Regions from separate parts of the Homo sapiens genome. Here all the other regions are linked to region 2. Evidence: fine-mapped expression QTL. A gene starts in region 2. Each other region holds a variant in brackets. All regions are shown on one strand. Distances are between the middles of the regions. Region 1 overlaps MFHAS1 (multifunctional ROCO family signaling regulator 1). Region 2 holds the start of MFHAS1 (multifunctional ROCO family signaling regulator 1). Region 3 overlaps MFHAS1 (multifunctional ROCO family signaling regulator 1).

Region 1 (7,674 bases), 25 kb before region 2:
TATTATTTCTCTCAGGAAGGCAGAAAAACTAGGGCAGGGATTACTGCAGCTACAGAATGACTGTCCTCCACACCTCTCCTTGTTCAGGCGGCTTGGCCTACTCTCCTGACAGTGCAGCCACGGAAAAAGTGCCAAAGCATGCCAACCTCAAACAGAGGTGATGACAGAGAAGCTGAAATCCTGGTTTCCCTGGGGATTTGGCTGGCCAATTTTTAGAAAGCTCTACTCCTAGCTGAAGTGCTTTTATTATTCTCTTTTTCTAAGCAGGAAGAATACAGAAGAACAGGGCCTGGGAACCTAGGAGCACTTCTCTTTACCATTGGTTCAGTAAAATCAGTGTCATTTTGCCTGCGAAAAGCTCTCTAACTGATCCCTGTTTTATCAGACGATAAAACTCTGACGCTGAATGGGAACCTAGAACAGGGATCTATGGCAACTTAGCAAGGATCACTTCTTTTTTGTTTTTTTTTTTTTCTTTTTTGAGACAGGGTCTTACTGTCCTCTAGGCTGGAGTACGGTGGCGTAATCTCAGCTCACCGTAGCCTCTGCCGCCCTGGCTCAAACAATCCTCCCACCTCAGCCTCCCCAACGGCTGCAACTACAGGCATGCACCACCACGCCCAGCTAATTTTTTATTTTTTGTAGAAATGGGGTTTTGCCATGTTGCCCAGGCTGGTCTTCAACTCCTGGGCTCAAGCGATCCTCCCACCTCAACCTCTCAAAGTTTTGGGATTACAGGCATGAGCCACTGCAGTCAGCCAGTAAGGATCACTCTTATCCCTAGTAAAAAGGATCCGTGATACAAAATGGCCACTGAGTCCCTTCTCTCTCCCCAGTCTCTTACACATTCTCATAAACAGTGATTGACTCACTTATTTTCTGCAGAAGACAGAATGGCATGAATGGGACGGAAACGGTTCATATGACTACTTGGATATCTCTCATCCTGTGAACCAGTCTAACAAGCAATTACCTTGAGGAATCTGAAAATAAAATCGTGATATGAATTCATGAATCAGGAAAGAACCGTGTACTTGCATAATTAGCCTTCTTTAGAGAATGGGGAAATACATATCTGATACAAGACAATTTTTAAGGTGTAATCCCATCATTTGCAAGTCACTAAGAATAAATGTGAAGGTGACAGTGGGAAAAAAAAGAAAGAGAAAGAGAGATGGGTTGGTATGATCTATTTTTAGCTTACAGTTCAGCTACACATAATATATTAACAAAATTTCTGATACTGCTAAGGTGCATTAATATAGATTAAAGGAAACAAGATAATAAAGGAGATGGACTGAGCTCTTCAAGTCTGTACTAGTAGGAAATGGAATTAAACACAGGCTGTGGGGTTTTATGAAAGTCACAATGGTCATCAGCATATGCAAACCCACTAAATTCTTCACCATATAAACTTTTTGTTACATTTTTATAACAAAAGTTAAAAATATACCCTCACATTTTTGAAAGTATGCTTCTTATGGTTCCTAAGATACCAAAAATAAAATAAAACATTCCTAAAACAGTCCAAAATTAAAAGGAGGCCCATAGGTACTTGCCTATAGGTGTCGCACAGAAAATTTTTTTTATAAAAACAATGTTTCTACTCTTTTATTATTAATCCAACCCCAGAATTTTAAAAGTATGCAAAGTATTATTACACGCCAATAAGCTAATGATAATTCAAACATTATAAATTGCTATACTTTTTTTTTTTTTTGAGGTGGAGTCTCGCTGTCTCCTAGGCTGGAGTGCAGTGGCGCAATCTCGGCTCACCAAAAGCTCCGCCTCCCGGGTTCATGCCATTCTCCTGCCTCAGCCTCCCAAGTAGCTGGGACTACAGGCACCCGCCACCACACCCGGCTAATTTTTTGTATTTTTACTAGAGACGGGGTTTCACCGTGTTAGGCAGGATTGTCTCGATCTCCTGACCTCGTGATGGGCCCACCTCGGCCTCCCAAAGTGCTGGGATTACAGGCGTGAGCCACCGTGCCTGGCCATAAATTGCTATACTTTTTTAGTAACAGGTTAAAAACCCTGGGATCTGAGGGAAAGACCAATTGTTTAACTCCATTCTTCATTCTCAACATGTGTTTCCTACCGCTAATAAATGGAACTCGAGTTTTTCCATGGCCCCACTCAGTTGGAAGAATCCTCTTTCTCGCCTGAACTTCTGTGGCACTCTGTCCAGACTGACTTTTATCATTTATTATAATAAGTGGTATAGCGCACAAACCTGATCCATTTTCTAGACCAAGTTCCCAACGCACAGGCTCTGAGGGGGATTCAGTTGAATCTCCCAGGTGCTTATTCCTTGCTGCAAGGCCTCTGGAAACTCCTGCTTTATGAATCTAGAATCAATGAATAAATATCCTGACAAATAGCTACTTACATGTAAACTCTAGATGTTATCTCATTTCTCTACACTGCATGAGCACTGTGTTGTATCTTTCGGCTAATAATATAGACAAACTAAGTTAATGATTATTCTTGCAAAGATGCAAAGATTTTTTTTAATCTAGTATGAACTAAAAGCCATAATTAATCACCGAGAAGGATAGCCTCAACTTTTTTAAACTGACTGTAAACTGATTACCTAGTGCCACTCGGCTAATACACTGGAACCAGCCCTTGGTAGACAGATGTGCCCTTCCAAACAGATATGCACAGTAGGCCTGGGCTCATCCCAATTTGGAGCTACTCCCAACTACTCGGATCTTTGCCTTGGATCAGCCCAACAAATGAGCATCTTATGGAAGATGAGGCCGCTCACAAACCCACAATGAAATACATGGCTTGGGCCCTCTCTAATGAATTACTCATGAGTCAGGCATGACACCTGAGTCTGGGAGGCTCCTCTCATAAAGTCGGTAGTAACCTTAACATAGAAAGAAGTTATAAATGACTATGCAACCTTACAACTGGCTTCCACCCATAGTCATCGCTACTTCATATGCAAACAGCACCTCTGATATCTCACTCAGATTCTAAAGAAATCTTTGCTAGGGGAAGAGAAAAAGGGAGAGGAAAAAAAAGACATTCTCTGCTGTGTTTTACATTTCTTAATCCTCTCTAGTTTCGTCTAGAGTTTAGAGAAAGTCAGTGAGAAAAAAGATTATGGGCATGTTCCTAACCATTTATTTCAATTTCCTTTATTATTAGGTGGAAAAGTAGTTAACAGCTATGCAAAGCAGGTGCAGAGAGGAGGAGGAGGAAGGCAAAAAGAGGGCCGCTTTTGAGGTGCATGAACCAAGAAGAGTCGCTGCCTGCTCTGTGCCATCATGCAGCTGTTAATGCCACAAGGCTGCTCTCCCACCCTCCCCAAAGTTGATAATGAAAAATCAAAGCACAAACAAAAGCAATGCACAGAACAGGATAGCAAAACCCGATCATCCTGCACCAACCACATCTCTTCAGTGCATCTGCTTTGACCTCT[G/T]CTTTTACAAGCACTACCACTGAAAATAAGCTAGAACAAAAGCTGATTCGTTATGCACAACCATAAAGAACTCCGGGGCACGCTACATACATAATTCATCATGCCAAGCACGCGACAATCAGCATCATTTATCTTTGCGGTATTTTAAAGCGGTGACAGGTTACTAGATATTTATAAAGTCTCTTATTTCTATGAGACCCTTCCAAATTTAAGAAATAAAGAACCTTATTCCTCTGCAAATGGCACTGCTTACAAACCTAAGACTATATATCTCCTGGAATTCACCTGGTATCCATCATAAGAGGGTGGCTACACGACCCTAATAAACCAATTAAGCTAGCAGCCGTTCCACATCAGTCCTGTTGAAATTAATCTTATCAAATCACTTCCGCTTTCTGTTTTTTAAAACATGCTGCAGTCTTCTTCCCGCTGTGGTTAAAATTTTTCTTGAAACATACACTTAAATCAGTCATGCTTTCTGTCTAATGGATGAGGAAACCGGAGCCTGGGAAGGTTCAAGAGCTCAGAGCTAGGAGGAGAGAGGCCCAGGACTCTGCCTCATTAACATCCAAGACTCAATTGCCTTCATCCCCAAGGACCTACCTGGGGGCCTCTATTGTTTATTATTGTCTGAATTACCTCTAAGTGGTCCCTCTGACTCCATTCTTACTCCATTGAAATCCATCTTCCACACTGCTGCCCTGAGTGTGCTGACAAAATGGAAATTTGACATTTCCCCATTTGACCCTTCAGTATTTTCCTCTCACCCTCTGAAAAAAACCATCAGGCTTTAATTTAGCTTAACACCCAGATGCCAGAAGTTCCTTCTGGTGAAAAAGTGTTAGCTAGTGAATAGATAGGCTAAAAGTTATTTACACGGGATATGTACAGTGGTTCAACCTGTAATCCCAGCACTTCGGGAGGACAAGATGCACAGATCACTTAAGCACAGGAGTTCAAGACCAGCCTAGGCAACATAGTGAGACCCTGTCTCTACAAAAAAAAAAAAAAAAAAAAAAAAATTAGCCAGACATGGTGGCACGCACCTACAGTCTCAGCTAACTCGGGAGGCTGCAGTGGAAGGATAGCTTGAGCCCAGGAAGTTGAGGCTGTGGTAAGCTGAAATCGCGCCACCTCACTCCAGCCTAAATGACAGAGCAAGACTCTGTCTCCCAGGAAAACAAAAAAGGTTTAAAAAGAAAACAAAAATATTTACAGACGTGCATTGATAAATGAATAGTTGGGCTGCCAGTAATTTGTACAGCCCATCACACGTCAGGGGCCCTGGTTTTACAGAAAGTCCCTACGACTCACCTCCCCTGGAGACCTCCCATCCATCTAACCACCCCACACACACACACGTGGATCAAGACAGATTCCATCCCGCAGGCCTCTCCGAGCCCCTGGAGATCTTTTTCTCCTGGAATTTATTACACAGCCCTGCAAATCTCTGCTTACTGTCCACACTGCTTCCCTGGACTGCAGCTTCCCGGGGTCAAGGCCTTGCTCCCCTCCCATGCCCCATGCTCTGCCCCATGGCTGGTCACTGCCAATCCCCAGCAAATGTTTATAGTCCAGTACTGCAATGTTAAAAGCAACCATGTGCATTTCACACAAGGAGTCCTTACTTTTTTTCTTTTTTTGGTGACAGGAGCGTCACTCTGTTGCCCAGGCTGGAGTGCAATGGTGCAATCTCAGCTCATTGCAACCTCTGCCTCCGGGGGTTATTCTGCTTTTCATTCAAATAACTACCCATTTTTAATGGGTGACAAGCTATTGCCTTCCTGAGAAGCAGCACAGGGTGACAGCAAAGACCATAGGTTCCTGAGGACAACCTGGGCTCTGCTACATGCTGTGTGCCCCTGGCCATATGACTTAGCCCTCCTCTGTCTCCACTCCTCATCTGTAAACCAGGATGATGGTAATCAGAGCTAATGTTTACTGAGCCCTTATTATATGGTAAAAACTACTTGCAGCTGGGCGTGATGGCTCACACCTGTAATCCCAGCACTCTGGGAGGCCGAGGGGGCTGGATCACTTGAGGTCGGGAGTTTGAGACCACCCTCGCCAACTTGGTGAAACCCAGTTTCTACTAAAAATACAAAAATTAGCTGGGCATGGTGGCACATGCCTGTAATCCCTGCTACTCATGACAATGAGGCACAAGAATCATTTGAACCAGGGAGGTGGAGGTTGCAGTGAGCCAAGATCACTCCACTGCACTCCAGCCTGGGCAACAGAGTGATCACAAACACGCAAACAAAGAAAAAACTACTTGGGGACTTGACATCTATTCATTCATTTCCCCCTCACAACATCTAAGGAGACTCTGATAGCAGGTGTAAATGCTTGGGAACTGTTAGAATTATTTTTACCTATTTACAGACGAAATTGAGGCCCAGGGAGGCCAAGTGGCTTCCCAGAGGTCCAGGCCCCCGACTTCCTAATCCACTGATTTAATTACATCCAAGGCTCAGATGCATGGGCTCAGATGTATGAATGGCATTCAAGAAGTGCCTGGGAGAGGTTAACATACTGCTGATAAAAGATGCAAGGCCTCTTTCTCTAATGCTGGTTTAATATAAAGCAAGTAAGCTGCATGGCAATATTCATCTCTAGCTACAGCTAAGGTGACACTTGTTCTGTCACCCTACCTAGGAAACCGTATCAACTCCCTGAGATGAAAATCTGCCCCATTCCAGAAATGAGCTAAATCAAAGGAGGGAGAAGGAAGGAAGAGGAGGCTAAGGCAAAAAGTTATTCACACTTTGCATAAACATGCCCGGATGGCAAGCATTATAAAACGATCTGTGTAACATAAGCTTCTGGGTCCATGGGAGGCAAGGGAGCATGTGACTGTGCACGGATATGAACAAAGCCAGCGACACACCACCAGATTCTTCAAAAGCAAATATTTGTCTATGACCAAAGAATCGGGATTCTTTTCTAACAAAGAGGAATGTACACCGTTCTAATTCCTGATTCTTCCTCCTGCTTTACAGTGGGTTATGATCTCGATGGAAATCCCCCCATGAATAAATGTGTCTGCAATCACAAATGGCCCCATAAATCAGAAGATTTATGAACTGTAAAAGGGGACGGCAGGAGGATTCCAACCTTGCAGCTTCCTTCATGCGGACCACCTGGGGCCGGATGCATGGCAGTTTATCACTTCCTGGAAACAGTCATCTGGCTTTTCTTTTTAGCTAAGCAAGAAAATGTTATCAGCCCTGGTAATCAACAAGATGCAATCATCCCTGCTATTTGGGTAAGCTTTTAATGCCGCACCACATTACACAGAGGAGGCTCAGATGCATAGGCTCGGATGCATGAACAGCATTCAAGAAGTGTCTGGGAGAGGTTAACACACAGCTGATAAGCTCTGGCTGGCTGCAGTGAGGCCTGGCCCAACAGCCCCTAAGGCAAATTCCTGAAGGGACTAAATAGAAAATGAGTGGATATTCCCTATTCCAAGGGAAAAAATAAAAATAAAAAAAAAGATGGGAACAATACAGTAACCAGGGAAAAGCACAGAGCATGCACATGTGTGTTTTTCTTGGGGAGGGGGAAATGCATATATTTCAGAGGCTTAACAAATACATTCAAAAGAACACCTGCTCCATCCCAGACAGGCAGCAGAACATCGTGCAAGAGTGAGACGGAGACAACCGGGCAGTGCCACTCGTGAGCCATCTGGGAGTGAGGGGTGTCAGGGAAGGGGACAGATGCACCCTACAGGGCTTTGCATCCCAGTTCTTATTACTGTACCTTGGGCACAAAACAGCCCAGCTCTAGGCAAGCCAGTGAGCCATTTTTGGTATCATAGTGTTCTTTTGGAAAATTCACATTTCTATTTTTAGTTCTTCCACATGCAATTCATAAGCAATAGCCCTCCGGAATCAAAGTCACCTCAGCTATGCCATGAGTCAAGAGAATCCCAGTGAATATATTTTTTAATAGCATGTTCAGGGAAAATGTGACCAGCTCTGTTCGGCCATACTGTCTGCATTGACTTGGCAGTTAGCATGAAATGAAGGATTTTAAAGACCAAACACTTCAATGAGTCCTGTGAAAAAAACTCCCAAGAACCTGACTGGGGACTTTGTTAGCTTGAAATAAATATATACGTCATTAAGTATGTTTTAAACACAGAAGCAACTATAACAGGATTTAATTGCTTACTTTTTTTTTTTTTTTTTACAGGTCAAACACATTTTAGAGTGCTGGGTTACACCCAC
Region 2 (7,674 bases):
AGCAAAGAGGGATCCCTCTGGAAGAAGACATTGAGGATGTCGATGAGGCGGGTGAGGTTGTGGAAGACGTGCTCCTTGAGAGCCGGACTGTCCTCAAAGTAGAGTAGCTTGCCGCTCTCATGCAGGTAGGAGAGGGCACTCTGCAGTCGGTCCTCGGTCAGACCCGCCTGCAGGCCCAAGCGCGCCGAGTCCCACCAGCTTAGCCACAGTCGCTGGGCCTGAGGTGGCTGGAAATGCAGTTCCTCCAGCACCTGCCAGGATCGAGGCAGTACTCTGTGTAAGTTGGGGAAGATCTCTCGGTGCTCAGCAACTGACAGCAACTTGTCCCGAAGGCGTCGTAAGTGGCGCGGGTCCCTGCAGCTAACAGGCAACACGGGGGAGAGGATCTGCAGCCGGTGGTTGAGCAGGTATTGAAAATGGGCCTTGCGCCGTCGAAGGTTCTTGTCCGAAACGCCATAGTAGGCTGCGTGGGGGCTGGCAGAGCGCAGCTCGAAGTCCCGGGCCAGTGCCTCGTCCACCACCTTGGCCAAGCGGCTCAGTCCCTCCGCGTCGTGCTTCTCCTGCAGGGCGATCTGGCGGTGAATGTCCAGACATTTCTCCTCCAGCTCACGCTCTCCGCACAGGTCTGCGTGGGTGCCCACGATGCACACCACCGCGTGGGGCACTCTCGCCCCGACCCGATGCAAGAAGGAGCCCACGGTGGTAGGAAAGTGGCGAGGCTCATAGGTGGCCAAGTTGACCACCAGCACGTATAGGGCCCCTGGGGACAGGAAGAAGGGCTGGATCACCTCATAACTTTCATCCCCAGCTAAGTCATACACGATGAACCGCAGGCCCCGGGAGGCATCGGCCGTCCAGCTGGTCACCTCGATGCCCTTGCTCACAGGGGGAGGTGACGGTGGGTAGCACTTCTCCTTGTCCCCTCCTCCTGGGCATCCCTCCACTCTCTCCTCGGTGAGGCAGTGGCGCAGCAAAGTCTTTCCTGCAGCCTTATGCCCCATCAGGAGCAGCTTGAGCCGGGGCTGCACCGCCGGCTGGGAATGAGCCAGTTCCTTCTGGTAGGCTGCGATGTAGGGGATCCCCTTCATGCAGACCTCGTAGGGGGGCTGGATCAGTGGGTTGTCTTTGATCTTCCACAAACCCACCCGGGAGAGCTGGCCAAAGTGGTCGGGCAGCACCGCGATCTGGTTCCCCTGCAGCACGAGCTCCTCCAGGCCGGTCAGCTCCACGATGGAGTCCGGCAGGTAGCGGATGCGGTTATTATCCAGCCACAAGGTGAGAAGCCGGCCCAGGCCCGAGATAAGGGATGGCACCGAGGTGAGCTGGTTGCGACTAAGGTAGAGCTCCTCCAGACCAGCCAGGGGCAGCAGCGCGGCAGGGAACTCCTCGAAGAGGTTGGAGGAGAGGTTGAGCATTTTGAGCCGCTGCAGGCAGCTGAACTGGGCGGGCAGAGCCTGCAGCCCGTTGTTGTCTAGCATGAGGCTCTCCAAACTGGCCAGCTCGCAGAAGCCGGCGGGCAGCGTGCCAAGCTCGGCCCCACTCAGCCAGAGGATCTTGAGGGCACGCAGGGCACTGATATCCTCAGGCAGGCCCCGCAGCCGGTTGCTGGACACGTCCAGCTCCTCCAGGGCCACCAGCTGCAGCAGCTGCCGGGGGAAGGCAGTGAGCTGGTTGTGATCCACGTCCAGGGTGCGCAGGCGGGAGAGGCAGGAGAGGGAGTCAGGCAGGTGCGCCAGCCGGTTAAAGCTGACATCCAGCTCCTCCAGGTGAGCGAGAGCGCCCAGCTGGGCGGGCAGGGCGGGCAGCTGGTTGTGGCTGAGGTTGAGCTTCCGCAGCTCCCTCAGAGCACTCACCACCTCCGCGCCCAGGGCGGTCAGCCGGTTGTGGCTCACGTCCAGCTCGGTGAGGTGGTGGCCGAGCTCGGCCACCGCCGGGGGCAGCCGGGCGAAGCGGTTCCTGCGCAGGACCAGGACGCGCAGGCTGCCCAGCGCCGACCCCAGCCCCTCGGGTACCTCCTCCAGGCCGTTGTTCCCCAGGTTCAGTGCCTCAATGTCCCCGAGGTTGGCCGGCAGCACGAGCTGGGGGGAGGCGGGGGACTCGAGCGCGTCGGCCCCGGCCCCGGGGCAGGCCCCGGCGGCGGTAAGCGTGAGCTGGCGCAGGTTGCTCCGCAGCTTCCTGGCACGCAGGGCGGCGTCCCGCCACAGCCTCGCGGTCTTCAGGTTGCCACTGTCCATCCCAGCCATGGCGGGGCCCCGGGCCGACAGCCTCACGCGGACGCGGGAGCCCGCAGCTACATGCCGCGCCGCGCCCCGGGCCCTCCGGCTCCTGCCCCTGCCTGCCCTCCCGCGCTCGGCGGCCGGCGGCCGCGGGTCCTAGCGCAGCCAGCGGCCGAGCGCTGGCGGCTAGGGGGCGGCGGCGACGCGAGCGGCTCCGGGGGACGCCGAGCGCGTGGAGAGCAGCTTGCATTCTCCCTGCGGCCGGGCCATGGGCGCGCCGGGCAGCAGGGCCGCCGCCCGCGCGCCGCGGAGGATGCCTGCTCCTCCTCCCTCTCCGCCCGCCGCGCGGCGCCTCGGGGGGCCCGGCTCCGGCCCCGCTACCCTCGCAGCCGCGGTCCCGCGGCCGGCAGCGGCGTCGCCTCCTCGAGCTCCTGGGGGAGGGCGGCGCTCGGCCCGGCGGCGGGCATGCTGCGGGCGCAGGGCTGGGGCGCAGCCGCGGGGAGGGGGCGGCGGCGCCTCCTTGTCTCCGTTTCCCCGGGCTCGGGCGGGAGCGCGGGCGCCGCGTCCCCGGCGCTGGGAGGGCGCGATTGGGAAGCGGCAGCGCCGCCCGCCGGAGCGGCCCCCACGTGACCGGCGGAGGCGCCGCGTTTTCCCGGCACCGCCCCGGGGGCGGGAGCTGCGGAGGGCGCCGGGTGCGGGGCCGGGGGCGCCTGGCGCGGGGCCGGGTCCGCGCCCCGGACCATGCTGGGCGGGGAGGTCGTCCCAGCGGCGGATGTGGGGCTCCGGGGCCCCCCTGGTGGGTTCGCCCGCGCCTGGCTCTTTGTTGGCCCCCAGTCTCTAAGGATTTCTTTTTCTTGTTCTCTAATGCGTCGGATCCGCCGGCTTCCCTTACTCATCCTTTACCTGCTCCCCTGCCGCTCGCCTTGCATCCACGCCGTAGTGGAACTGGCACAACTCGGGGGCCCTGGGTATCATCATAGAAGCTTAGGACAAGAGTGTGGTTAAACAAAATTAGAACAGGCAACCATTCATTCATTTGGTAAATATTTCCTGAGGCCCTATTTCGTGTTGAACATGGGACAGGAGTAATGCAGGCTGGTCAGAGGAGAATAAAAAATACCAGGCAGCAGTTTCACTTGACTGGAGGCTATGGGCTGATAAGACCCTGAAAACCAGGGTGTGTACCAAGCTGGCTAAGACCGGCTGGACCCGACGTGGTCCTGGATTTGACCTAGGTTTCTCCTAGGCCTCCATTATACGCTCTTTAACATCCTAAGTCACACCAGTGCCATGACAATTCCGGGGACACCCATATTTGAAGTAAAAATGGGTGGCACCACAGTCCCGAAAAATCTCCACACTTTTCCAGGAATTTTCATGAATATTTCACCCCTTGGTTAAAGAAACCCATAAAGGTAGCAGCCCCAAGCCCCGTTGTGAGTGACCCTCTCCACAATCCCTTTTCCTGGGTGTGTACTTTTCCCTTTGCAATAAATCTGCATATTGTCACTATTTTCTGAGTTGTCCTTGAACTCATTCTCTGGATGTGTCAAGAGCCTGGACATTGGCTGGGGTCAAGGTCGCACTGGCTTTAGAGGATCTCCCCCAGCCCACCCGTACCAGAACTACTAAAAGACGGTTTTAACCCCCCTGGGGAAGGCTTTTGAGCAGGTGGCCCGCCAGCCTAAAGGAGGGTTGTTAAGATGGGGGGGACACAAGCTGTTTATCTGGGGTATCCCGTTTATCTTCACAACAACGCTGTGAAACAAATACTGTATCCCCATTAATACAGTACCTGTTGTTCTGCGGACTCAAGAAAACAGCTATTTTGGGAAACAGTCACAGTCCATTGTTCAACTCTAATGCTTATTTTTATTGCTGTTAGGAAATGTTTCTTTGAGCTCACATCTATGCTAAGTCAATAATTTCTCCCGAACTTATGAAAGTCTGGAAACCTACCAAGACTCCCAGTGTCACCTCCATCATTCCCTTCAGGTTGATTGATAAGGAAGCAAATAGTTTTCAGGGACCGAAAACTGCGTTCAGTTGGTTAAAGGCATCACTTGACCCACTGCAGCTCTCCCCGACATGCGCTATGGCTGTCATTTGGGGACCCATATTTGGTGCAGTAACGTGAGAAGTGTGTGTTTCCAAAAAGAGCACCTGAACATCTGAGGCTGGAAATCCACCCCAGTGATGGTTATCAGGCTGCAGGTAGTACATGCTGTAACTGGAGGATGTTCCCCAGTTCTGCTGGGTCCCTGAGGCTCTGACACCACAGATGAAATGTGAGTAAGTGAACAGCAAGAGCTGATCTGTGTTCACTCTGAAGGACTTCCGAGAGTTCAGATGGCTCAGGGTAGCCCCACCCACACTCCCTCCCAGAGACAGTCAATTTTACAACAAATATTCTGAGTTATCTAGGCTGACCCTTTTTTTCCCCCACAGAGGAGGAAATGGGCTCAAAGTAAGTGACTTCTCAATCAGCCATCAAAGTAGAGTAGAGGCAGGACTGCTAACTCCCCGTGTGGAATGTATTCCCCTGTGATCATCACCTGTACTCACACTGTTCTTGAGCCAGACCCCAAATTCTCCATCCTGCAGCTTCTTCTAACAAAAATATGAACTCAGCCTGGGTAAGGAGACTGGAGTAGGCATCACCATCCTACACCACCTTACATGATTATATCTCAATAACTGCTAACTGTTCCTCTTTAGAAGCCATCAGAAAATTATACTTCCTCCTGCAGAAGCTGAAATCAATTGAAAAAAATGAAAATTGTGCTTGCTTCAGCAGCACATATACTAAAATTGGAAAAATACAGAGAGGATTAGCATGGCCCTGCACAAAGATGACATGCAAATTCATGGTGTTCATTTATTTAATAATATTTTCATTTAAAAAATTATTTTAAAAAAGAAAAATGGCCGGACATGGCATCTCATGCCTGTAATCTCAGCACTTTGGGAGGCCGAGGTGGTGGATCAGTTGAGGTTAGGAGCTCAAGACCAGCCTGGCCAACATGTCAAAACCCCATCTCTACTAAAAATACAAAAATTAGCCAGGCATAGTGGTGCGCACCTTTAGTCCCCAGCTACTCAGGAGGCTGAGGCACGAGAGTTGCTCGAAACCAGAAGGCGGAGGTTGCAGTCAGCCAAGATCACACCACTGCACTCCAGCCTGGGTGACAGAGTGAGACTTTTTCTCTGAAGAAAATTATATTTTCCTTTCTTTTCTTTCTTTCTTTTTTTTTTTTTTTTCTGGAGATGGGGGTCTTGCTTTGTTGCCCATGCTGGACTCGAACTCCTGGGCTCAAGCAGTCTTTTTGCCTGAGCCTCCTGAGTAGCTGGGATTATAGGCATAAGCCACCCTGACCAGCTTATACTTCTATTTTAAATGTCCTTGGAAAACTGCACTCTTCATTTGTCAGGAGATCATCTATAATTTGCTTTATCTAATAAAAAGTACTGGCTAGGACCCTGCGCTAGGGGCTTCAAGCCCCACTAAAGCCCCAAAGCCTGGAGTGAATAAGTGTGCTGGGGGTGGCAATTCTTTGTGAGCCCCTCAGCTGATGCAGTCAATATAGTAGGAAGCCTTGTAAGAATCCTTGTCTATGAGTTCTTTGAAAGTCAGTATGTGAATGGGCACAGGGGTATATGCCTGTAATCCCAGCACTTCCAGAGGCTGAGGCGAGCAGATCATTTGAGCTCAGGAGTTCGAGACCAGCCTGTGCAACAAGGCAAGACATCATCTCTACAAAAAATACAAAAATTAGTAGGGTGTGGTGGCGCACACCTGTAGTCCCAGCTACTCAGGAGTGACGCGGGAAGATCACTTGAGGCTGGGAAGTGGAGGCGGCAGTGAGCCAAGACTGCACCACTGTACTCCAGCCTGGGAAACAGAGTGAGACTCTGTCTCAAAATACAACACAACACAACAAAAGAAAGTCAGTATGCTAAAAACTAGAAAGTCAAATGATAAAAGATAACTCAATGATAAAAGAAAACTCTATGAAAAGATATTGTGTTCCATATAGCTTTAAAATTTTTTTTTCTTTGTGCTTTCCACTTTCAAAGAAACTGCTTCGTAAAGAACTATAGAAATGATTCCTGGGCTGGGTGCAGTGGCTCACACCTGTAATCCCAGCAGTTTGGGAGGCCGAGGCGGGCAGATCACAAGGTCAGGAGTTCGAGACCAGCCTGGCCAACGTGGTGAAACCTCATCTCTACTAAAAATACAAAAATTAGCTGGGCATGGTGGTGGGTGCCTGTAGTCTCAGCTACTCAGGAGGCTGAGGCAGGAGAATCGCGTGGACCCGGGAGGCAGAGGTCACAGTGAGCCGAGATCATGCCACTGCACTCCAGCCTGGGCAACAGAGCAAGATTCCATCTCAGAAAGAAAAAAGAAAGAAAGAAAGAGGATTCATGAAAGTATCATCTTTTCTGTTTTTTCATTGAGACAGGGTCTGCTTATGTTGCCCGGGCTGATCTCGAACTCCTGTGCTCAAGTGATCCTCTCAAGTATCAACCCAGGCAAGGACTCCTGCCGTGGGCACCTAACCTGGCCCTCCTCTCACCATGCTGTACCCCGTGTGGTTAAGTTTCTGATGGGCCAAGGGGGCACGCCCCCTCCACCTTCTAGAACACACATGGTATGGAGGACCCTGAATTCCCAATGCAAATAGCCTCAAGCCTGGATGGGGAGCGTGGGGCAGTCTTTCATAGTCATTCGAAAGAAGTTATTGAGGTGGGCATCCCTAGACCTGGGGGTTGTGCAGGAGCTGGACCTCAGCTGTGTGCCGACGAAGCTCCTCTCTGTGCTGGATGTAGCCCAGGCTAGGGCAAGGAGTGTGAATGTGCCACATCTGTTAGGGTGATGTAACACATTTAGATATTTAGGCATGTGGCATGTGGGCCTTCCCGTGTACCCTTTCCCCAGGCCCTGCAAAGGATAAGCGTGGCCCTGCAAATGGTAGGGTTTTTCTAAAAGCAAAAACAACAACAACATTGTTTGGAGAAGAGGAACTCTATTATATAAAGTTTTCTTTCCTTAGAGGTCTATCCAATGTCATGAATCTAATCTATAAACTTTCCAAAACCTTTTCAGCTTAAGCCTTTTAATATATCCTGTTTTCTGACTCTTAGATTGTTTTCTCTTTCGCTGCTGCCTTATGATGGCAAGAGCATTCCATACACATTGGCTTTGTTCCAGAGTCTAGACCCTGTCTGCAAGAGCAGAGTCATTCAGGAGAGTGGAGAGTACATGGAAAGAGGTTGTGTCTTGAGTGAGGCCTTGAAACATGGCTGTTTAGAAGGGAGAATCCTAGATGCTCCAGATAAGCGTCTTTTGTCAAGAACAGTCTGGATTGGCAATGTGTGATGGCTCACGACTGTAATCCCAACACTTTGGGAGGTAGAGGTGGGCGGATCACTTGAGGTCAGGAGTTCAAGACCAGCC
Region 3 (7,674 bases), 39 kb before region 2:
CGTGTGGAGTTGTTATCTAAATCAACAAGTTTGCTTGGCAGCTTAATTAAATTCATCCTACCATGTAGTACAACAAAATCGTGTTTCCATATACTATTAAAAAACCAGGGACTAGAAAGTTTACAGTTCTTATCTACTGTTGCAAAACAAAACTGGAAACAAAACTCTATTCTTTCATATTATACCCCTTCCTCTTGCCTTGTTTTTCTCTTTCCATTCACTGAGTAACACTTTAACTAAAGAATGTATTTAAAATAAGAACAAATACAGGAAGTTAATCCAACCAAAACACTTAAAGTAATAGTAAACTAAGGTACATGGAAAAAGAGGAAGTTGTGATGCCCCCCGCAAAATAAAGATTTCCTGGCAGGTGAGACTTGAAAAGCGATCACAGTGTTCTCCATTCTCTTGGTGACAGAGAAAAAATGTTTTCCCTCAACAAAGTTGAAGCTTAAGTGTAAATCTGAGGTCACCAGGCGGATCCCTAATAAGGACAGAGCGCTCCCTCAGGAACAGCGATGCCAAGCCCAGTTTTGGATACATAGGGAGTGGGTGGTGGAATGCCGGCTTCCATTCGAAGGAGACCCCTCTCCAGCACCATGGGAGTCGCACCCTTAGCAGATATTCTGTCCTCCAGAGAGCTGAGGTTTCAGGAGTGCCAAGCAAGGTATAAATGTCATTAGCGTGAGTACTTAAAACATACCACAATGTCCAGGTGCGGTGACTCACACCTGTAATCACATTTGGGAAGCCGAGGCGGGCAGATCACTTGAGGTCAGGAATTCGAGACCAGCCTGTGCAACATGGTGAAACCTCATCTCTACTAAAAATACAAAAATTAGCTGGGTGTGGTGGCATGCACCTGTAATCCCAGCTACTTGGGAGGCTGAGGCAAGAGAATCGCTTGAACCTGGGAGGCGGAGGCTGCAGTGAACTGAGATCACGCCACTCCAGCGTAAGCAACAAAGCGAGACCCTCTCTCAAACACACACACACACACACACACATACACACAAACACACACACCCACAAGAGGGTTTAGACCTGGTGCCTGCTGGTTTCAGCCACTCTAAAACCAATGGGAGGATTTTATTATTTTATTTCTTTGCAAAATAATTGGTTCTGTGGACACCATCGCCCTTCATTAAGGCTGAGATTCTGACTTCCATGGCCATTTGCCATTGATGCTTTTAATAACCATGCATTAATTCCGTTCTGAAGTCCAGAGAAAAAGCTTTCTATTTTTGCCTTCCCTAATAGGGCACAGCCAAGAGAAAGCATCCCACCATGCAAAGCTCTAGCTTGGCTGACATCAGAACAGAGTCCGGTAAACAGTTTCTTATATTAGGCTATCATTGTTGTTAGCCCCGATGAGTCAAATTTACATTCTGGGAGAAGGGTATGAGCCCTCACTTCTACATACTTAAAGTCAGAAGTGATTGCATTTCCATAAGAACATTTATACCCGGATGTATTTCAGAGTCCTACTTTGTGGCTGGGAAGGTGGCCTAAAAAACCCAATATCACCCAAAGGAAGCAGGAGGTCCTGATTCTGTTCTCAGCAGCAACTGCCTGGCTCAGTCCGTGTGTCTGCTCTCAAGACCCCGACTATGCCCCTGCAGGCTCCATTTCTCCTACTACACAAACAAGGCTCTTGCCACCCACTCAGGCTTATTTACTTGCACTGTGTACATATACACCGACTCACACACACACTCACATACCCCCCAAAAAAAATGGAGGCTTAAAATACCCCATTTTGTCACAGTTTGCTCGGAAGCTACTCCCTCTAGTTCAACAGGCGGCAAGCTCCTGTCCTACCTGCCCCTTTCTACCTTTTGGGAATAAAAAGGAGCAACCAGAAATAGCAGAGAAAGCGGAAGGGAACCAGGATCTGACTCGTAATTACAGTTCCATAAACCCAGACAACTATTTTTGTTAGTTAACCTGGACAATCGCACAAGGTGTCTGCTCATTCTTAAAAAAAAAAAAAAAAAAAAAAAACCACACACAACTTAGATTGCTAGTGCCTGGCACGTACAAGGCAAACAGTGTGGGTACAACCATTAGGTCAGGTCCTAGCTACGTATATATATTTGAGATGGAGTCTTGTTCTGTCGCCCAGGCTGGAGTGCAATGGCGCAATCTCAGCTCACTGCAAACTCCGCCTCCAGGGTTCAAGCGATTCTCCTGTCTCAGCCTCCTGAGTAGCTGAGATTACAGCTATGCGCCACCACTCCTGGCAAATTTTGTGTTTTTAGTAGAGACAGGGTTTCACTATGTTGGGCAGGCTAGTCTCGAACTCCTGACCTCAAGTGATCCCCCTACTTCGGCCTCCCAAAGTACTAGGAGCCACCACCCCTGGCTTAGCTACCTATTTCTATTGTCAAGGTTATCCAACTGTTGTAGGTTAAATGGTCCATACTCACTAACACACTGGTGAAGGTGGATAATTACTATTTCCAATTCCCATGTTGCATTCCATAAAAGACACCAACCAACTCCATGAACACCTTGATTTGTCTTAGTTGTGTTCACATTATTAAATTACACTGATTTAGGAGCAAAAAATCCTTTGTAAGTCATGGGCATTGTATAAGGTTGCCCAATTTACAAAACAAAAATATACGCTGGGTGTGGTGGCTCACAGCTGTAATCCCAGCACTCTAGGAGGCCAAGGTGGCAGGATGACTTGAGGTCAGGAGTTCAAGACCAGCCTGGCCAACATGGTGAAACCCCGTGTCTACTAAAAACATAAAAATTAGGCCAGGTGCAGTGGCTCACGCCTGTAATCCCAGCACTTTGGGAGGTCAAGAAGAGGTCAGGAGATCAAGACCATCCTGGCTAACACAGTGAAACCCCGTCTCTACTAAAAATACAAAAAATCAGCCAGGCTTGGTGGTGGGCGCCTACAGTCCCAGCTACTCCGGAGGCTGAGGCAGGATAATGGAGTGAACCCGGGAGGCCGTACTTGCAGTGAGCTGAGATCGCACCACTGCACTCCAGCCTGGGCAACAGAGCGAGACTCTGTCTCAAAAAAAAAAAAAAATTAGCCAGGTGAGGTGGTGCATGCCTCTAGTCCCAGCAACTCAGGAGGCCGAGGTATGAGAATTGCTTGAACCTTGGAGGTGGAGGTTGCAGTGAGCCAAGATTGCACCACTGCACTCCAGCCTGGATGACAGAGGGGGACTTTGTCTCAAAAAAAAAAAAAGGAAGAAAGAAAAAAATATGTATTATGACTAAATCAGAACATCACATGGAACATATTTACACTAAAAATTATTCGTTGCTTACGTGAAATTCAGATGTAAGAATAGATGTATACATGAGACCCACCCATAAGCAACACTTTATTGTTTATCTGAAATTCAAATTTAACTGGCTATCCTGTTTTTTTGGTTTTGGGTTTTTGGGGTTTTGTTTGTTTGTTTCTTTGTTTTTGATACAGGATCTCACTCTATACCCCACGCTGGAGTGCAGTGATACTATCACAGCTCACTGCAGCCTCCATCTCCTGGGCTCAAGTGATTCTCCCATCTCAGCCTGTCAAGAAGCTGGGACCACAGTCGTGGTCCTCCCTCAGTATATATGGGGGGTTTGGTTCTAGGGCCCCCACCCCCAGCATACCAAAATTATTTTTTATTTCTTGTTGAGAGAGGTCTCGCCATGTCGCCCAGGCTGGTCTCGAACTCCTGGGCTCAGGGGATCCACCCGCCTCGGCCTCCCAAAGTGCTGGGATCACAGGCGTGAGCCACCACACTCAGCCGACATCCTGTATTTTATCTGGCAATCTTAACATTGTATTAGGACAAGCGGAAAACAGATGAATTAAGACATGGCATCTTACCACAGGAGCTCATTGTCTGGTGAAAGAGCCAGACCTGAACTAGAATCATAC[A/G]ATGGAGGATTGGAGGCGCTTTCCAAGCGCTTTCAAGAACACAGGGAAGGAGCAATTAAATCCTAACTGAGATGCACACTAATGTCTCCATCCTGCACAATGAAAATGAACGTTATAGAATTTATTCTATCATTCTATATATCCCACAGATTCTTTAATCCTGATTCATGAACTCGCTACAGTGTTTTCAGCCAGGCACGGTGGCTCACACCTGTAATCCTGGCGCTTTGGTAGGCCGAGGCGGGTGGATTACTTGAGGTCAGAAGTTCAAGACCAGCCTGGCCAACATGGCAAAACCTACTCTCTACTAAAAATACAAAATTTAGCCAGGCATGGTGGCAGGCACCTGTAATCCCAGCTACTTGGGAGGCTGAGACAGGAGAAGCACTTGAACCTGGGAGGCTGAGGTTGCAGTGAGCCGAGATCACGCCACTGCACTCCAGCTTCGGCAACAGAGTGAGACGCCGTCTCAAAAAAGAAAAAAACAAAAAATTATGCTTTCTGCCGTTATTTTCATCTGAAGCAAGTTACTGACAAGGTAATGTGAAGGGGGTTATAAAACACTGGCCATAACAGATTCAGAAACACAGATGAGAAAAGATGCTCAGTTATTTCAATGCCAAATAAGCCTCCTCACTTTTGTGCTTTGAAAGCGAGCGGGGACTGAATGTTTACCTGTTTCAGAACTACAGTTTAGAAGACGGTCTTCCCCATGTCTGCTGAGATGAGGGATTCCCCATGAACTCCTCACATGCACAGCTCTGAAAGTAAGATCTGGGGCCCTTATTTGGAAAACAAACTCCCTAGATCTTTTTGCTCCAGCAGCCAAAGGAGCTGGGCATGGTACAAGAGTCACTGGTCAGGTGGGGTCAAGCCAGGACAGTGCTGGAGAGATCTGTCCCGAGCTCACTCGAGTGTCTTTCTCATGGCACTGGGGCAAGCATGACCTGCACAGCCTGGCACAGAAACAGCACTTGCCCAGAAGATACTTCCCCGTATTTCAAGATCAAACAAAGTAGGACGCAGAAAAGAAAAGAAGCAAGGGAGGTAAGGGATGGTGTGTACATATTTCCTGTTGGAATTCCTCTGGAGTATAAAAAAGAGGGCCTGACAATTGCCAAACATATCAGGTGAGGCTTTGGGATCCACTGGTGGGAAACACTGAATATATTTAATATCCAAGACAATAATTCAAAGACTCTAAATTGGGAAATTAGCTTAATAGTATTTTACTTGCAAGGTCCTACATTTCAATATTAAAAATACTGACACATTAAAAAATGAAATTGGTCTTTTATTCCTAGCCTATTCATCTTTGCATCTTTCCCAGCACAGAGCATCCCCATGGCACTCAGCAGACCCCCATGATGTCTGGTCAATTAATGAGTTAATGGATGGTTTCAAGCCCATGAGCCAGATTCCTGTCACCGGCATGTATCAGTTTATTGCTGCACACGGGAAACCTTGCAGCCACAGGGCTTTGTTTATACACTGCCCTAGAAGCCACTAGGATTCTCTAGATCAGAAAGAGAAATATATTCTAGTTCTCATCTTTCAAACTGGCTCAAAACCTGACACTTTCACATCAGGAAAGTGAAAAAAAAAAAAAAAAAAAAAAAAAAAAGAGGAGAGATACCGAAAGAGCCAGGCTGTTCATAATTTTGTTTTGGAGGCAGTGCAGAAGAAAACATCCTAGAGAGGCACTGCCAAATTCTAAAAAGAGTCTTAGAATGCCAAAAACAGATTCAGTCCCTTAAGCAAAGTGGAAGGGAAAAAAGAAGCCTATCAATTCAAAGCAATAAAGATTTAAACAGAAAGTTCATGAGACATCAATAAATTCCGCGTGTGGCCCTATTGTTTAGTTACTAAACTGCCAATGCAACTTTCAGTGGTTAACCAACACAGCACAAGTTTGCTCCTAATTTAATATCCCTTTCAGATTTCTGATTCCATAATGAGATATCTTCCAGGCCAAAATATGCCAAATTTTTCTACCCTGAAACAAACCTGTGAATTTTCTGGGCTTAGGTCCTTTCTTTTTTCCTCCATTCAGCCACTGAAATAATAAGAATTCTAATTAAAAATGAGTTCAGGCCCGGCGCGGTGTCTAACGCCTGTAATCCCAGCACTTTGGGAGTCCCAGGCAGGTGGATCACAAGGTCAGGAGCTCGAGACCAGCCTGGCCAATATTGTGAAACCCCGTCTCTACCAAAAAATATATAAAAATTAGCCAGGCATGGTGGCGGGTGCCTGTAGTCTCAGCTACTCAGGAGGCTAAGGCAGGAGAATCGCTTGAACCCGGGAGGCAGAGGTTGCAGTGAGCCAAGATCGCACCAAGGCACTCTAGCCTGGGCAACAGAGCAAGACTCCGTCTCAAAAAAAAAACAAAAAAAAATCTTTTGTTTGTAAACTCAGTAGATATATAACTGTCCTACAGTGACATTGACAAGTTAACTTTTAAAATACCTAAAGCAAGTTTCCCTGTAGAGTTGGGCAAATTCCATATGCTGACTGCCCACTTGTTGATACATTTTGCTATCAGGAACCCAACACCACCAATTTTGGGGAAACCTTTTTCTAAACAAATGAGAAAATCCAAGATGATTCAAATAGCTGAGCTGAACAAAACAAAATGCTCTGAGACAATGACTGGTGTTCACTGATCTGGGTCATTTGCCTGCCTCCACGCCTGACAGCCTTTGACCTATCCCAAAGCAACAGCCATCTGTCTAGTATCTGAACAGAAATTGGGACGGAGCACAGGGGGTATACAAGGCAGGGAGTAGTTAAGAAGCCAGCAAGGGAAGGAAGGAAATTGTTTAGTAAGTGCCCACTACATGCCAAGCATTGTCTTAGGCATTTTTATATGCATTATTTTATTCAGTCCTTACAAGAGCTGTATGACATAAATTTTGCTTTTTTAAAACTAAGCAAGTCTCAGATGTCTCCATGTCATCAAAATCTAAATATATAACATTATTACCCTTTGAAAATTCTAATAAATGAAAGAAAATTTAAATTTAATATTTAAAATTATATTAAATGGCCCATCCAGTTTTGGAGCCTAGGAAGGGTTCAACAAGAGTGATTTATTTTACTAAGACCTAGAGCAACAGATGAGACCTATGTTACTGAAAACGATTATGCAATGCTATAATTACAACTATATTAAAAATATGCCTTTTGGGGGATACTCTCTTCATTGTGGCGATGGCCTCACAGGTAAAAAACAAAAATAGACAGTCCTCCCTCGGTATATATATGGGGGGTTGGGTTCTAGGGCCCCCATCCCCAGCACACCAAAATCTATGCATAAAGTCCTGAAGTTGGCCCTCGGGACCTGCATATGAGATGAGCCAGCCCTCCGTATGCACAGGTGGCGTCGAGGTGGACCCAAGCAGTTCAAATCTATGTTGTTCAAGGATCAACTACACTCATGATTCAGACCAAAATAGAAATAAACAAAGTGAAAATATCCGTAACAACAAGGATAAAGCATTCTCAGTCAAAAAAGACTATATAGAGGAACACAAGCCAGATATCTGTTTTATATTTCTCAACATATTTTCTGCACAATACCAGCTCCAGCGGATGTTACTTCTTACATATGCACACACATACACACACACATAAAGATTCTTCAGTCAATAAGTTTGAAAAATGCTTGGTTAAACAAAGCTCACCACGGCTGGTAGTGATGGCTCATGCCTGTAATCCCAAAACTTTGGGAGGCTGAGATGCAAGGATCACTTGAGGTCAGGAGTTCGAGACCAGCC

Evidence for each region. PIP is the estimated chance that this variant, and not a neighbour inherited with it, causes the effect.
Region 1: its variant is fine-mapped to the expression of MFHAS1 in whole blood (TOPMed, PIP above 0.99).
Region 3: its variant is fine-mapped to the expression of MFHAS1 in whole blood (INTERVAL, PIP above 0.99).

What each region holds. Positions count from the first base shown.
Region 1 is chr8:8,865,858-8,873,531 of GRCh38, forward strand. The region is part of intron 1 of MFHAS1 (multifunctional ROCO family signaling regulator 1); the gene reads right to left. Among named protein-coding and RNA genes, the nearest start is that of MFHAS1, 24 kb to the right of the region's middle. RefSeq lists a silencer at 2,622-2,916. The variant G/T (reference allele first, on the strand shown) is at 3,437.
Region 2 is chr8:8,890,816-8,898,489 of GRCh38, forward strand. MFHAS1 (multifunctional ROCO family signaling regulator 1) reads right to left here and starts at 2,815. Exons shown (of 3, transcript NM_004225.3): 1 at 1-2,815. The coding sequence starts at 2,243. It also overlaps the pseudogene RNU6-682P. RefSeq lists enhancers at 1-275, 276-1,235, 1,236-2,196 and silencers at 2,041-2,310, 2,421-2,700, 2,711-2,960.
Region 3 is chr8:8,851,487-8,859,160 of GRCh38, forward strand. The region is part of intron 1 of MFHAS1 (multifunctional ROCO family signaling regulator 1); the gene reads right to left. Among named protein-coding and RNA genes, the nearest start is that of MFHAS1, 38 kb to the right of the region's middle. The variant A/G (reference allele first, on the strand shown) is at 3,899.